4 linked regions of the Homo sapiens genome follow. The protein of the gene in region 1 purifies or fractionates together with the protein of each later gene. This does not show direct contact. Each region holds a gene or a part of one and is shown in the gene's direction. Other genes may lie near its edges. The genes, in order: ARHGEF5, LMNB2, CCDC86 and GLOD4.

What was found.
Region 2: the proteins of ARHGEF5 (region 1) and LMNB2 purify together in Homo sapiens (affinity purification with mass spectrometry, with the first as the bait; one large-scale study listed by BioGRID). This does not show direct contact.
Region 3: the proteins of ARHGEF5 (region 1) and CCDC86 purify together in Homo sapiens (affinity purification with mass spectrometry, with the first as the bait; one large-scale study listed by BioGRID). This does not show direct contact.
Region 4: the proteins of ARHGEF5 (region 1) and GLOD4 purify together in Homo sapiens (affinity purification with mass spectrometry, with the first as the bait; one large-scale study listed by BioGRID). This does not show direct contact.

The regions. Positions count from the first base shown.
Region 1 is NC_000007.14:144,354,031-144,358,238, forward strand, and holds the start of ARHGEF5 (rho guanine nucleotide exchange factor 5), read left to right. Parts: upstream 1-1,371; 5' UTR 1,372-1,471; exon of another isoform or gene 1,472-1,688; intron 1,689-4,208. UniProt on the Homo sapiens protein: Guanine nucleotide exchange factor which activates Rho GTPases. Strongly activates RHOA. Also strongly activates RHOB, weakly activates RHOC and RHOG and shows no effect on RHOD, RHOV, RHOQ or RAC1.
Region 2 is NC_000019.10:2,443,441-2,447,005, reverse strand, and holds part of LMNB2 (lamin-B2), read left to right. Parts: intron 1-2,465; coding exon 2,466-2,602; intron 2,603-3,565. UniProt on the Homo sapiens protein: Lamins are intermediate filament proteins that assemble into a filamentous meshwork, and which constitute the major components of the nuclear lamina, a fibrous layer on the nucleoplasmic side of the inner nuclear membrane.
Region 3 is NC_000011.10:60,845,103-60,848,401, forward strand, and holds part of CCDC86 (coiled-coil domain-containing protein 86), read left to right. Parts: intron 1-2,821; coding exon 2,822-2,951; intron 2,952-3,299.
Region 4 is NC_000017.11:765,219-768,783, reverse strand, and holds part of GLOD4 (glyoxalase domain-containing protein 4), read left to right. Parts: intron 1-3,565.

The DNA.
Region 1 (4,208 bases):
CTTTGTGTGTGTCTGTGTGTGCACACAGGCACACTCGAGAGACTTTTGGCATTCTTTGAAGTCACTGGAGGGGCACAGAGATAAACCCACTCAGCCTTGGCCTCCAAGACTAACAGAACACAACGTTTCCCTGAAAGAATAAAAAAAAAAATACAGGCATAAGAAAACACACAAACATGGGCTTAGAGATTTAAATACACACACACACACACACACACACACACACACACAGGCCCTAGAAGGAACATACACCCTGAGATACGCACTCATTCTAAAATAAACTCGGGAATACAGAAGGACACGGGCATGTCCTTTCAGAGAGGCACACTTCTAGGCCCTAAGTAGGAGAAGGAAGAGGGGAGAGGAAGAGGCAGGGAGAGGGACAGGGAGGGGGGAGGAGGGAGGGAGAGAGAGAGAGAAACGAAGAAGGGGGCGGAGGAGGAGATGGAGGAGACACTCTTTATTCTATAGGAGGAGACATCACGGAAGAGAAATCAACACTGAGGCCTTGGCCGGGCGCGGTGGCTCACGCCTGTAATCCCAGCACTTTGGGAGGCCGAGGCGGGTGCATCACCTGAGGTCAGGAGTTTCCAGACCAGCCTGGCCAACATGGCGAAACCCGGCCTCTACTAAAAAATACAAAAATTAGCCGGGCATGGTGGCGCGGACCTGTAATCCCAGCTACTCGGGAGGCTGAGGCAGGAGAATCTCTTGAACCCGGAGACGGAGGTTGCAGTGAGCCGAGATCGCGCCATTGCACTCCAGCCTGGGCAACAGGGCGAGACTCCGTCTCAGAAACAACAACAACAACAACAACAACAACAACATCAACAACAACAACAACAACAACGAACAAACCAAAAACCAATGAGGCCTGAAGATAAAGACACATGTACAACCACGGATGTCAGACTTCCAGAGGCACGGCCAAGGCAAAAGACAAACACATACAGACTGCAGCAGGCAGACAGGCCGGTTCCAGAGTCAGGCTCCGGTGAAGCTCCGAAGAAACAAACACGCAGGGAGATTTCGGAGGCGTCCGAGGACACCGTGGGGCCCGGCTGGCTCCCTCTGTCTCTGTGCGCGCCCCTTCCCCGGGTCACCCCGCCTGCGCCCGACCTGCGCCCGCGCACCGCGCCCTCGGGGCTCCCTGGGACAGCCCGCGGCCTGGCCCGTGCGCCCGGGCTCCCCTCCCCGCCGGCCCGGCACTTCCCAGCTCTGACGCGGGAGCTTCTTTCACACCAATGGGGCTCGCGCGCGGAGGGGCCCTGCCCCTCCTCCGGGAAGGTGTGTCCCTGTTTCCTCACCTGAAACTTCCTAGGAGAACCCGATCCCTCCCTCCCGTCGGGCGGCCAGGGGCGGGCCGCGGGTGGGGCGGCCGGGCCTGCGCTGGGGACGGCTCTGGGGACTGCGGCCGGCGCCGGGACCTGGAGGGGACGCTGGGGCCGAAGCAGCATGTGACACCGACCAGGTGGGTGCCCTCCTCCCGTCTCGGCCCTGGGCTCCCGGCGGCTGTGGAGCCCGGCGGAGGTGGGGCAGGGACAGGAAGGAAGAGGAAGCCAGGCCTTTCCCAGGGATCAGCCCCCGCTGGGTCCGGGGCGCAGGCTCCGGAAATGGGGGGGCTGGGCCCGCAGGCAGGGCTCGGGGTGTGTGGCTGAGGACCCTGGTGGGGAAGAGGAGAGGAACTAGAGGAAATGTTGTTGCCTACAAGTTTGCTTCCGGTCGGGTCCCGCCTAGGAAATGGGCACCCTGCCCCCAGACGTTCCCCGGGCCAATAATCAGGGCTCTTTCTTCAAAGTAGGCGCCCTGGGGAAAGCTAAGCCATATCAGAAGGAATAACTGAGATTCCCTTTCTAGGCTGTTCCTTACCTGGAGAGGTTTTATCGGCTCCTTTTCCTTAACCAGGCCGGGGCCTTTCCTTATGTATCTCCATAGGTATTTGCATACTGTGTGAGTCTATGTGTAGCTTCTCTCCGTGTTAACCAAAGCTCCGTAACCTGGAACAGTGAATCCTGCCCTGCCCCTCACCCCAGTTCCCTACATATGGGGAGCCTCCTAAAGCTTGATGTGAATCACAACGTTGCATTCTTAGCAAGGTGGAAAGAAGTTATTTAGAGTTGGGGGCTGAGGTAGGCGTTGGGGTGCTAGAATGCGGACGCAGAGCTCTAGAACCCCTGAGCATCTTTTGCAGTTGCCTTCCGGCAAGACTACCGGAGGAGAGCCAGTTGTGATACTACGTCATTTCCAGATCTCAGTCCCTTTCTTCCCTTCCTGGATCTTGGGTTCCAAAGACAGATTTGCCCTCCTGTCTACCTAGAAGTGAACTCTGGCCAGGACTCTTGTCTGGTTGAGAGAGAAGGGTGTGTCAAACAGATGAGAGAGGGTGGTTTTCCTTTCGAGCTTCCTCCCTAGCTTGCTCCCCTACTGCACTCCACTGTCTGGCCTTGCATCTTGGGCCTAATCCAGAGGTCCCAGCTCCAGCTAAAAAGCTCTTGATGTGGCCTCTGTCTCAGACGTCTTGTTTTATCCACATTTGGAGCATGAAGAAGTTCCTGGCATAGGCCTTAGCAAAATGGGTGTCATTTGTTAACCAATCTGTGGGCCTAAAAGTGAAGCCATGGCTAGTGAAGGAGTCCTGGGGAGCTGGGAAGATGGGATGAGGGCGTGTCAGTTCTGGGTGAGACTGATATGCAGGAGGAATGTATGTCATGGTCCTAGTGGGGAGGAGAGAGAAATCAGGAGGAGTGCAAAGGAATCCCTCTCATCAACAGAATATAGTGATTCTCAATAGAGAGAAGAGTGTTCATATATTAGAGGTCCTGAGAGTGTATCAGTGCCCTTAACGCGGTCTGTCTGAGGTTCCGTGGCCACGTTACACGTGGTGTCTGTGGGATAGACAGGAATACGTCATTTGTGGTGTCTGGAGAGGTCAGTCGCTATGTGGTATGGACAGGAATGGAGTCACTCGTAGGGTCTTGGGTTCAACGGGAGCAGCATTACTCAAGTGTCAGTGGTGTAGACAAACAGGTGACCAACAGCTCTAGTGTAGACAGGGGCTGGGTCACTCACAGTGTCTGTGGAGTAAGCAGGAGCCGATCACTTATAGTGCCTGCAAGGTAGACTGGAACAAAGTCACCCTCAAGGTCTGTGTTAATACACAAACACGTCACTCACACTAATGTTATCTGTGTGTATGCCACCAGGACCACAGATGAGATTGTAGAGTGTAAGTCAGCATTGACACTAATAATGTTCTTATATAAACTATCTGGTCTATAAGGCAGTTGGTGTGACATTTTCAGACATTAGAGAATAGATAAATGTGTATTACAGCTTTCACTGGCATGGTGGGACTTTCCTGCAATGGATAGAACACACACTGTAGTAGTCAGTGGTCCAGAAAGCTACCCCTGTTTTGATATCTTTGTAGTATTGAGGGCAGTGATGTCAAACAGTGAATAAAGTTATATATCTATGTGGTGATCTTATTTTAACCTCAATATTATTTTAGTGATTTGTAAGTCAGAATATTTGAAATCAACCTTGCTAGAAAATCCAGGAAGCATGGTCCTCAAAAATATATATATGGCACTGAGTCTCAGTTCAAAGATTTGGCAGTTTGATTGGGGAGGGGTTGTATCCTTGAAATACAGTGTTGTTTCTAGTGACTAGAAATAGACAAGAGCTAAGGTGTTGGGGGGGGCTCTAGGGAAGATAGTGAGCTCTGTCACACATTATGTTAAAGGGATGACTTGAAGCTTTGCCTCTCAAGAAGTCACACGTGGGTGAGGTTATGTGGATGCAGAATGTCTGTGGTCTGAAGCAAGGCCGTATCCCCATAATCCCATGCCCTGGCTTTGCCTGTACACAGATAAACAGTGATTATTCACCCTCAGTGGAGAAGGAGATGAGGATGTTTGCACTCTAACGTAATGAGCATTGCAAAAAACTCTCTCCTGATGCCTTTACGTGAGTAAGACCATGATTTACAGATTTCCTTTCACTTTGTCACATTTTAGCTTTGTCATGCCTGATTGCAACGGGATCACTGAGATAGGATCAAGTATAGGGAACGTGGGGTATGTTCTCCCTTTGCGGTAACTGGTGGCTGAGCAGGTGACCACTGATATTTCCAAATGAAAAAAGACAGTTAGAAACGGTGTCAATGGGCTTGCAGAGGCAGGCATGCACTGTGCCACTAGATTGGA
Region 2 (3,565 bases), on another chromosome or scaffold:
CGCCTGGCTAATTTTTTGTATGTTTTTTTAGTAGAGACGGGGTTTCACTGTGTTAGCCAGGATGGTCTCGATCTCCTGACCTTGTGATCCGCCCGCCTCGGCTTCCCAAAGTGCTGGGATTACAGGTGTGAGCCACTGCGCCCGGCACCATGTGTAGTTTTCAAACATGCATGGATGTGAATTTCATGTCTTCTGGGTCCACACCCAGGAGTGGAGTTACCGGGTCACAGGGTGGCTCTGTGACTCTTGGGGGAGCCCCTGGACTGTTTTCTGTAGAGCTGTCTCAGCTCAGGTTCCTGCCGCTGCCTGTGAGGTTCCGATTTCTCTGCGTACTCGCCCGCACCTGCGACTGTCTGTCTTCTTGACGGACGCCCTGGCTGGTGCGAAGTGGCATCTCACTGCGGTTTGCTTCCACATATTTTTAAACTCACTGAGTGCATGGCCCTGTGGGAGGAGGGGAGGCAGGAAGGCCACTAGAAGCCTGAGCTGTGCCCCCAGCTGGCGCGTGCAGAGGCCGGGCAGGTGGCGGCTGTGGTTGCAGCAGGATTAGTAGGAAGTGAAGAGGTCGCCTTCCCTGGCACCGCATGTGCCTCGAGTTCACCTGGAGGCCCTCGAGAGGGGCGGGTTTGGGGGCTTTGCGCGGGGCTTAGGGAGGGGCTTTCTTTAGCTGGGCGGCCCAGAGGGTGTTCCAGTCGCTTCTGCCTGCCCTGGTGACCCCTGGCTCTCCAGCCCCTCCCCATGTCCTTGCTGGCTGGGCTGGGTCTCCGTCGGGAAAGGTGGGGGCCGCTGGTGGGGTGGGGAGCTGGAGACTCTGACTACAGATCCCTGTGATCGAGGGGTGAAAGGTGGGGGTGACTGGTGGGGGGGGCAGCTGGGGACTGACTACAGATCCCTGTGATCGAGGGGTGAAAGGTGGGGGCGGCTGGTGGGGTGGGGAGTTGGGGACTCTGACTACAGATCCCTGTGATTGAGGGGTGAAAGGTGGGGGCAGCTGGTGGGGTGGGGAGTTGGGGACTCTGACTACAGATCCCTGTGATCGACGGGTGAAAGGTGGGGGCGGCTGGTTGGGGGGGGCAGCTGGGGACTGACTACAGATCCCTGTGATCGAGGGGTGAAAGGTGGGGGCGGCTGGTGGGGTGGGGAGTTGGGGACTCTGACTACAGATCGCTGTGATCGAGGGGTGAAAGGTGGGGGCCGCTGGTGGGGTGGGGAGCTGGGGACTCTGACTGCAGATCCCTGTGATCGAGGGGTGAAACGTGGGGGCCGCTGGTGGGGTGGGGAGCTGGGGACTCTGACTGCAGATCCCTGTGATCGAGGGGTGAAAGGTGGGGGCCGCTGGTGGGGTAGGGAGCTGGGGACTCTGACTGCAGATCCCTGTGATCGAGGGGTGAAAGGTGGGGGCCGCTGGTGGGGTGGGGAGTTGGGGACTCTGACTACAGATCCCTGTGATCGAGGGGTGAAAGGTGGGGGCCGCTGGTGGGGTGGGGAGCTGGGGACTCTGACTGCAGATCTCTGTGATTGAGGGGTGGGAGCTTCTGTCCTGGAGCCTCCGAGCCACCACATTGGCAGCTGGCCTGTCGGGGGGACACAGCATGGGAAGGCCAGATGCTCCTCCCTCCATCCCAGGGAACAGCCCAGCCTGAGCCTGGGCCATGTGCCTGCGTGTGAGGTAGGGGCACAGAGGGGCACGGGCTGGCCCCCGGTTGGCAGAAGTGGGGGATCTTGGGCTCAGCGGGGTCTGGGGGAGCGGGGGCTCCAGGTTGCAGAGGCCTGGGGGGAGTCTCAGGGGCCCAGAGGGGTCTGGGAGGGGACTCCAGGTTGCAAAGGCTGGTGGGGGCAGGGGGCTCTCAGGCCCAGTGGGGTCTGGGAGGGCCCCGGGTTGCTGTCATCACCAGTTGTCCGAGAGTGATCAGCCCAGTGTCCATGGTGCCCAGCGGGAGAGATCCTTGATTAAACATCCCACCAGTTTTCTGGTTCTGAAACCGAGAGTGTGAAAAATGCATCTAATGGCCAGGCATCGTGTCGCTATGACAGCGGCCAAGGGGCTGCATGTCCAGGTGTGGCTGGTCCTCCGGGGAAGGGGACAGGCTCCATCCAGCTGCTGTGCTGGTCCAGGCCCAGGGCCTTTGGTCTCCAGCACTGGGCGCCGCTGTTCTGGGAGCTGGAGCTCGTGGAGAGACGATCATTCCAGAGGGGGCCGCAGCAGAGGAGGAGGCTCCTGGGATGGCTGGGACCCAGGGTCGCCTGGCTTCCTCCTGGTTACCGGACCCTCCCCGACAGGGGGCTCCCTTTGCTGTGTCTGTGAGATGGGCAACACAGGGTGTCCCAGTGTCCCCAGGCTGCCATCCTCTCTCTCTGCGTGCCAGTCCCTGGGAATCTGAGCAGGGCCAGTGGCCGGGCCCCCTGACTGCTGTAGTCCAAGGGGAAGGGTCCCTCTCGCTTCACCCTGTCCTGGGTCTCCCCAGGTGAGTGGCATCAAGGCGCTGTACGAGTCGGAGCTGGCCGATGCCCGGAGAGTCCTGGATGAGACGGCTCGAGAGCGTGCCCGGCTGCAGATAGAGATTGGGAAGCTGAGGGCAGAGTTGGACGAGGTCAACAAGAGGTGAGTGGTCACGGCTGGGCACGACGTCACCCTGATCCTGGCACCACGGGGTGGACGGGGGCAGGTGGGCGCTGGGCTCGTGCGGGGCATGCTCTGATACGGGCACAGCCTGGAGCTCACAGCTCCCATCCTCTCTCCCCCACCAGTGGCTGCCACGTCACTTTTTCTGTTCTGAGGAAAGTGATAGATGCTCACATCGGACAGCAGGAAGCGCAGGGCAGCTTAAGCTCACAAGTAAAATCTCCCGCGAGCCTCCCCAGAGAGGGCTTCCTGGTCAGCCTGGCCTGTCTCCTTAGTGTGCACACGCGCTTGCACATGCTTACCTAGACCCCGGGCGGCACCCAGTGGACACCGTGAGACGCGTTTGACCTCAGGCCCCATCGTAGGCATTTCCCTGTGGTTGGATGTTCTTGGTGCCGGGGTTTTGTCCCAGCTGTTGGGACGCTCGGGTGTGTGGTGTGTGACCAGGGTGCTCATGGGTTGTTGGGCTGCCCCAGGGTTGGCTGCAAAGTCCTTCTGGGTGACAACTGTGTCCATCGGCAGAAACGATCTCCCCTCTCAGCCTGGCAGTGAGTCTTGCCTGATTCTGGGCGTGGGATGTGGTTGGGCGGCAATTTAAACAGAACGATGATGACAAAAGGAATATTTATTCAGAGGAGCCAGGAGGCCAATGAAACACTGAGCTCAAGGCTTTTCTTGATGTGAGGCTCCAGCTAGAGCGAGGTCTCTGGTGCCCTGCGTGTGGACACTGTCTTCCGTGGTCTCCGGCCACCGGCATTCAGGCACCTGCAGGTGCCTCGGATTTCCTCAGGCTGGGGTGGGTCAGGGTCTTCCCACACTGCTCATTCTCCCAGAGCCACGCAGGCCTGGCTCAGCATGGAGGGATCTGCTGGCAGGAGGGGTGGCACCTCGGCCACCTGGTACGGGGGTGACAGCAGCCAGTGGCTTGAGAATCCACGTTGT
Region 3 (3,299 bases), on another chromosome or scaffold:
AGAGATCTGGGGAAACAGTATCCAGGCAACAGGAAAGGGATGTTCAGAGGTATTGAGGCGGGAGCAAGCTCCCGTTTGAGAGGCTTTCCAGAGGTCTCGCTGCTGGAATGAGGGGGAGAAGGGGAACAGTAGGAGATGAGGTCAGAGAGACAGCAGGACCTGGTGACCCTTACAGGGACTCCCGGCTTTCCTGAGTGAGCTTGGGAGCCATGGAAGGGTGTCAAGCAAAGGAATGAAATGACCTGACTTGTGAGATCAGCCTGGCTACTGAACACAGACATAGGCGGGCAGGGGTGAAGGCAGGAAAACCCACAAGGAGGCTGTCTCAAGAGAACTAAAACAGCTTCCGAAGCTGCAGGCAAGTCTGTGGCGAGGGGCCCAGCAGGGCCACTGAATGGATGTTTGGGATCTTTGAGGGAGCAGCTTCGGTGGGTAGTAAGTGAGCCTGGAGATGGGTGGGAAGCAGCTCCTGCTGCAGGGAGGAAGACAGCCGCAGCTGGGAAAGTGTATGTGGTGAGGGAGACCTGGCTGCAGCCCTGTCTTCGTGCTCATGCCAAACGCCACTTTCTCCATAGTGCCCTTGGGCATGCTGTCTGCCTTCTCTGAGGAGTAGCATTTATGGAGCACCTATTACGTGTGTGTGTCGATTAAATCTCCCACCACCCTTTGGGTTAGGAATGATTCTCATCTCCACTGGACAGGATGCTGAGACTTAGAGAGGCTACCTTGCTCCAGGTCACCCAGGTTGGACTTGGAACCCAGGCCTGAGTTTCCTCAATACCCAGGTAGAACCAATGGTCTGGAACTGCCCTGCCTCAGTACCTTAGCCGCCAGCCACATGTGGCTATGTACATTTAAATTAATTAAAATTAAATAAAATTTAAGATTCAGTTTCTCTATCAACACCAACCACATTTCTAGCGCTCAGCAGCCACCCATGACTAGTGGCTACCTTATTGGACAGTGTCAATGTGGAATGTTTCCACCATCACAGAACGTTCTGTTTGACAGCCCTGCTCTACACAGATGCAGCACTGTGTCTTGTGGTTCTGTGTGTCTCTAGGCTCCCAACACCTTGTCCCTTCAGGGTTCTCGTACCCCAGCTTGGGAAGCCCAGCTTTACAGTTATGGGGGAAGTCCATGTGGCACCCCATTCTTAGTGCTTAGGAGGCCAGGCCTTCAGTGGCAAGGCCTTGGGAAGGGGAGAAGGAAATCAGGGAGCTGGGGCCAGAAGTCGGCAGGGCCAAGGGACACCAAAATGGGCCTTGAATCTTTAAAAGAGAAAGACCTAATTTCAGCATGTGGAGGCCACCGAGAGACTTCTTTGCATTTTGTTTTTACTTTTTTTGAATGGAAATTTTCAAGCATACAAAGAAAGAGCAAAGCTCTCAAGTCCCCATTATCAGCATCAACACAGCTCAGCATTTTACTAGTGTAGCTTCATCTTTGATACTTGGCTTTTTTTTCTTTTTTTCTTTTTTTTTGTTTTGAGACGGAGTTTCATTCTTGTTGCCCAGGCCAGAGTGCAATGGAGCAATCTCGGCTCACCGCAACCTCCGCCTCCTGGGTTCAAGCGATTCTCCTGCCTCAGCCTCCCAAGTAGCTGGGATTACAGGTGTGTGCCACCACACCCAGCTAATTTTGTATTTTTAGTAGAGACAGGGTTTCTCCATGTTGGTCAAGCTGGTCTCGAACTCCCGACCTTAGGTGATCGGCCCACCTCAGCCTCCCAAAGTGCTGGGATTACAGGCGTGAGCCACTGCGCCCGGCTGATCTTTGGCATTTTTTTTTCCCTGAAATATTTTAAAGTACATCCTAGACATATCATCCCATTCATAAATCCTTGTAGTATGCATTTTTACAGAGATGAGCTCAGTTCTCCTGTAACTCTAAAATCATCGTTGCTCTTTTCAGATTTCCCTGAGAGCCCTGATGCCCACTTCATCTCCAACTGGGGGAAGAGATTCTTTTTCTTTTTTCTTTTTTCTTTTTTTTTTTTGAGACAGAGTCTTGCTCTGTCACCCAGGCTGGAGTGCAGTGGCGCGATCTCGGCTCACTGCAACCTCCACCTCCCAGGTTCAAGCAATTGTTGTACCTCAGCCTCCCAAGTAGCTGGGACTATAGGCATACACCATCACACCCAGCTAATTTTTGTATTTTTAGTAGAAACTTTAGTAGGTTTTAGTAGGCTTAGTAGGTTTTGCCATGTTTGCCCGGCTGGTCTCCAACTCCTGGACTCACGTGGTCTGCCCACCTTGGCCTCCCAAAGTGCTGGGATTACAAGCATGACCACTGCATCCGGTCTTGGCGGGGAAGATCCTGAATCATTACCCAGAACTTTAACCACTCACACTGTTCTGAAATGGAATGGGCCACCTCCCTAGGGGGTGAGCGCCCCGCCTCCAGAGGCATTCACACCCGGGCCAAATGCACTTGGCGGAAGCAACAGAACTTTACAGCAGGGGCCGCGTAGCCTGGACTCTGCAGTCGCTGACAGGATTCAAGTCCTGACTGCCACAAGGTATCTTTAGGCAGCTATTTAACCTCTCCGCGCCTTGGCCTGCTCCTCTGTAAGTGGAGAGGATAGGAGTACCCACCTCAGAGGCATGTAGCCAAGGCTTGAGAAATGGCAGCCAGCACGATCAGGGTTCCCTCCCGCCCCAAGTTTCTGCAGCCCTGGAAGGCCGCCTGTCAGGCCAGCAAGGAGGTGGTTCTGCCTGGGCTCTGGGGAAGAAGGTCCAGAGCCTCCGGCCGAGAGGAGACAGGGCATGGGTGGCGCTTGCCCCACAGACCCTGTATGCACCCACTCTCCCCCTTTCAGATTCTCCCAGATGCTTCAGGACAAGCCCCTGCGCACATCGTGGCAGCGGAAGATGAAGGAACGACAGGAGAGGAAGCTGGCCAAGGACTTTGCCCGTCACCTGGAGGAGGAGAAGGAGAGGCGCCGCCAGGTGAGGGGCCAGCCAGGCTGAGGCTGGGGCTCAGAGGACTAAGCTAGTGTCTACTGGTACAGACCTGAGGCGAGGGCCTCCACGGGTGCCTGGGGGAGGCCGACTTGGTTAAAAAACGTTCTTGAATCTGAAGGCCGGAGGGAGGAAGGGCACCTGGCCAGAAGCAGAAGTGCAATCTGGGACTACAGGGCAGGGAGGCCCAGGGGACCATACAGTTTAGCCTGGGCTGCTGAAAGAGCCTCAGGGACAGGGACGGAGGGGGAGGACCAGAAGCGGGCCTTGGGGAGAAGCCCGGGAGGAAGTCCTGGGTGGTAGGGCAGTCAGTGAGATGGGGTCGAGGGCCCTTTG
Region 4 (3,565 bases), on another chromosome or scaffold:
CTCTCTCACATCCTCTCCAGATTTCTTCTAAAAATCTGAGTGCGCGCTGTTTCTCTCTCTCACGTCCTCTCCAGATTTCTTCCTCTAAAAATCTGAGTGCGCGCTGTTTCTCCCTCTCACGTCCTCTCCAGATTTCTTCTTCTAAAAATCTGAGTGCGCGCTGTTTCTCTCTCTCACGTCCTCTCCAGACTTCTTCTTCTAAAAATCTGAGTGCGCGCTGTTTCTCTCTCTCACGTCCTCTCCAGATTTCTTCTAAAAATCTGAGTGCGCGCTGTTTCTCTCTCTCACGTCCTCTCCAGATTTCTTCTAAAAATCTGAGTGCGCGCTGTTTCTCCCTCTTATGTCCTCTCCAGATTTCTTCTAAAAATCTGAGCGCGCGCTGTTTCTCTCTCTTACGTCCTCTCCAGATTTCTTCTTCTAAAAATCTGAGTGCGCGCTGTTTCTCTCTCTCACGTCCTCTTCAGATTTCTTCTTCTAAAAATCTGAGTGCGCCCTGTTTCTCTCTCTCACATCCTCTCCAGATTTCTTCTAAAAATCTGAGTGCGCGCTGTTTCTCTCTCACACATCCTCTCCAGATTTCTTCTTCTAAAAATCTGAGTGTGCGCCGTTTCTCTCTCTCACGTCCTCTCCAGATTTCTTCTAAAAATCTGAGTGCACGCTGTTTCTCTCTCACACATCCTCTCCAGATTTCTTCTTCTAAAAATCTGAGTGCGCGCTGTTTCTCTCTCTCACGTCCTCTCCAGATTTCTTCTTCTAAAAATCTGAGTGCGCGCTGTTTCTCTCTCTCACGTCCTCTCCAGATTTCTTCTAAAAATCTGAGTGCGCGCTGTTTCTCTCTCTTACGTCCTCTCCAGATTTTTTCTAAAAATCTGAGTGCGCGCTGTTTCTCTCTCTTACGTCCTCTCCAGATTTCTTCTTCTAAAAATCTGAGTGCGCGCTGTTTCTCTCTCACATACTCTCCAGATTTCTTCTAAAAATCTGAGTGCGCGCTGTTTCTCTCTCTCACATCCTCTCCAGATTTCTTCTAAAAATCTGAGTGCGCGCTGTTTCCCTCTCTTACGTCCTCTCCAGATTTCTTCTTCTAAAAATCTGAATGCGCGCTGTTTCTCTCTCTCACGTCCTCTCCAGATTTCTTCTTCTAAAAATCTGAGTGCGTGCTGTTTCTCTCTCTCACGTCCTCTCTAGATTTCTTCTTCTAAAAATCTGAGTGTGCGCTGTTTCTCTCTCTTACGTCCTCTCCAGATTTCTTCTCTAAAAATCTGAGTGCGCGCTGTTTCTCCCTCTTACGTCCTCTCCAGATTTCTTCTTCTAAAAATCTGAGTGTGCACTGTTTCTCTTTCTCGCCTCCCATTTTCACTTCAGTCTGTTTTGCACTGGCTCTTGTTACTCAGTGAAGTGCTTTTGTTTCTTGCCAAATATAGCAACTACTTTTAGATTCTCATCAAACTCAGTAATTCAGAAGCATTCAAAGTAGTTGTTGGATCCTAGCTCCTAGCACATACCTGGCATGTACTAGACGTTCTGCAAATACTTTGTTGAATGATTAAAGGAACAAATTGGTCTTTCTTGGTTCTGTCACGTAACTCTGTGACTGACCTTAAACAGTTGACTTAAATTCTTTGAACTTTAGTCTTCTTATCCAAAAATTTCAGAAAATAAGAGGATCTATCTCATAAGATTGTTATGGTTTATAGAGCTTGGCAAATTACTGACATAATAGTAGATGCACAATTAACGTTAAAGCAGGCAATGTATAGAAAATACAGTCTTTATACATTTTATCCTGAAGGAAAGTAGAATCTGTCATCCTCTCAGCTGACAAATTTGCCAGACTCTTCCTCCTCGCTCTTAATTTAATTAAATTAATTACTGAATTAAATTTTTTGAGATGGAGTCTAGCTCTGTCGCCCAGGGTGGAGTGCAATGGTGCAATCTTGCCTCACTGCAACCTTCGCCTCCCAGGGTCAAGCGATTCTTCTGCCTCGGCCTCCCAAGGAGCTGGAACTACAGGCACTTGCCACCATGCTGGCTAATTTTTGTATTTTTAGTAGAGACAGGGTTTTGCCAGGTTGGCCAGGCTGGTCTCAAACTCCTAGCCTCAAGTGATCTACCCACCTCATCCTCCTAAAGTGCTGGGATTACAGGTGTGAGCCACTGTGCCTGGCCCATTTTATTTTATTTATTTTTTGAGACGGATTCTTGCTCTGTCAACTAGGCTGGAGTGCAGTGGCATAATCTTGGCTCACTGCAACCTCCACCTCCCGGGATCAAGCGATTCTCCTGCCTCAGCCTCCCAAGTAGCTGGGATTACAGGCACGTGCCACCACGCCTGGCTAATTTTTGTATTTTTAGTAGAGACGGGGCTTCACCATGTTGGCCAGGATGGTCTTGAACTCCTAACTTCAGGCGATCCGTCTGCCTTGGCCTCCCAAAGTGCTGGGATTACAGGCGTGAGCCACCACGCCTGGGCCCATTTTTTTTTTTTTAAGACGGGGTCTCTCTCTGTCACCGAGGCTGGAGTGCAGTGGCATGATCTCAGCTCACTGCAACCTCCGCCTCCTATGTTCCAGTGATCCTCCCACCTCAGCCTCCCTAGTAGCTGGAACCATAGGCGTGCGCCACCATGCCTGGCTAATTTTTGTATTTTTTCTAGAGATGGGGTTTCACCATGTTGCCCAGGCTGGTTTCAAACTTCCTGGGCTCAATCATTCGATCCATCTTGGCCTCCCAAAGTGCTGGGATTATAGATGTGAACCATTGATGAACTCCTGCTCCCTGAGCTCTCTTCTCCTCTGCTGTTAGCGATCCTGCCATTTTTCTTTTTTTTGAGTTGGGAGTCTCACTCTCTTGCCCAGGCTGGAGTGCAGTGGCGCGATCTCAGGTCACTGCAACCTCTGCCTCCCAGGTTCAAGCAGTTCTCTTGCCTCAGCCTCCTGAGTAGCTGGTAGCTGGGATTACAGGCACGCACCACCACACCTGGCTAATTTTTGTATTTTTAGTAGAGATGGGGTTTCACCATGTTGGTCAGGCTGGTTGAGTAGGCCGGGTGCGGTGGCTCACACCTGTAACCCCAGCCCTTTGGGAGGCCGAGGCGGGCGGATCACAAGGTCAGGAGATCGAGACCATCCTGGCTAACACGGTGAAACCCTGTCTCTTGAACTCCTGACCTCAGGTGATCCACCCTCCTCGGCCTCCCAAAGGGCTGGGATTATAGGCGTGAGCCACTGCGCCTGGCCATCCTACCATTTTCATCTTCCTGACAGTTTCTCCTCAGACACGGGCACCTCTTTCTGTGTCTCATCCCAAAGTGTTTTTATACCCATAGCCCTACTTTGCTGTTTTTCCCATTCTGCATTCTTCCTCCACTCTGATGAGAGCTTACCTGCGACCTCTCCTTACCTCTGCCCTGAACGTAACCATCATCCTGGCTCCAGCCTCCTCACTTCCAGTTTTTAACTCCTTCCTCAGCTCAGACAGGTGGTTGTTGTTGATGAGGCATAATTTAGGTAGAATTTAAATGTGTTTTGACGGTTGTGTTTACTCATACAACCACTACTCAGAATAC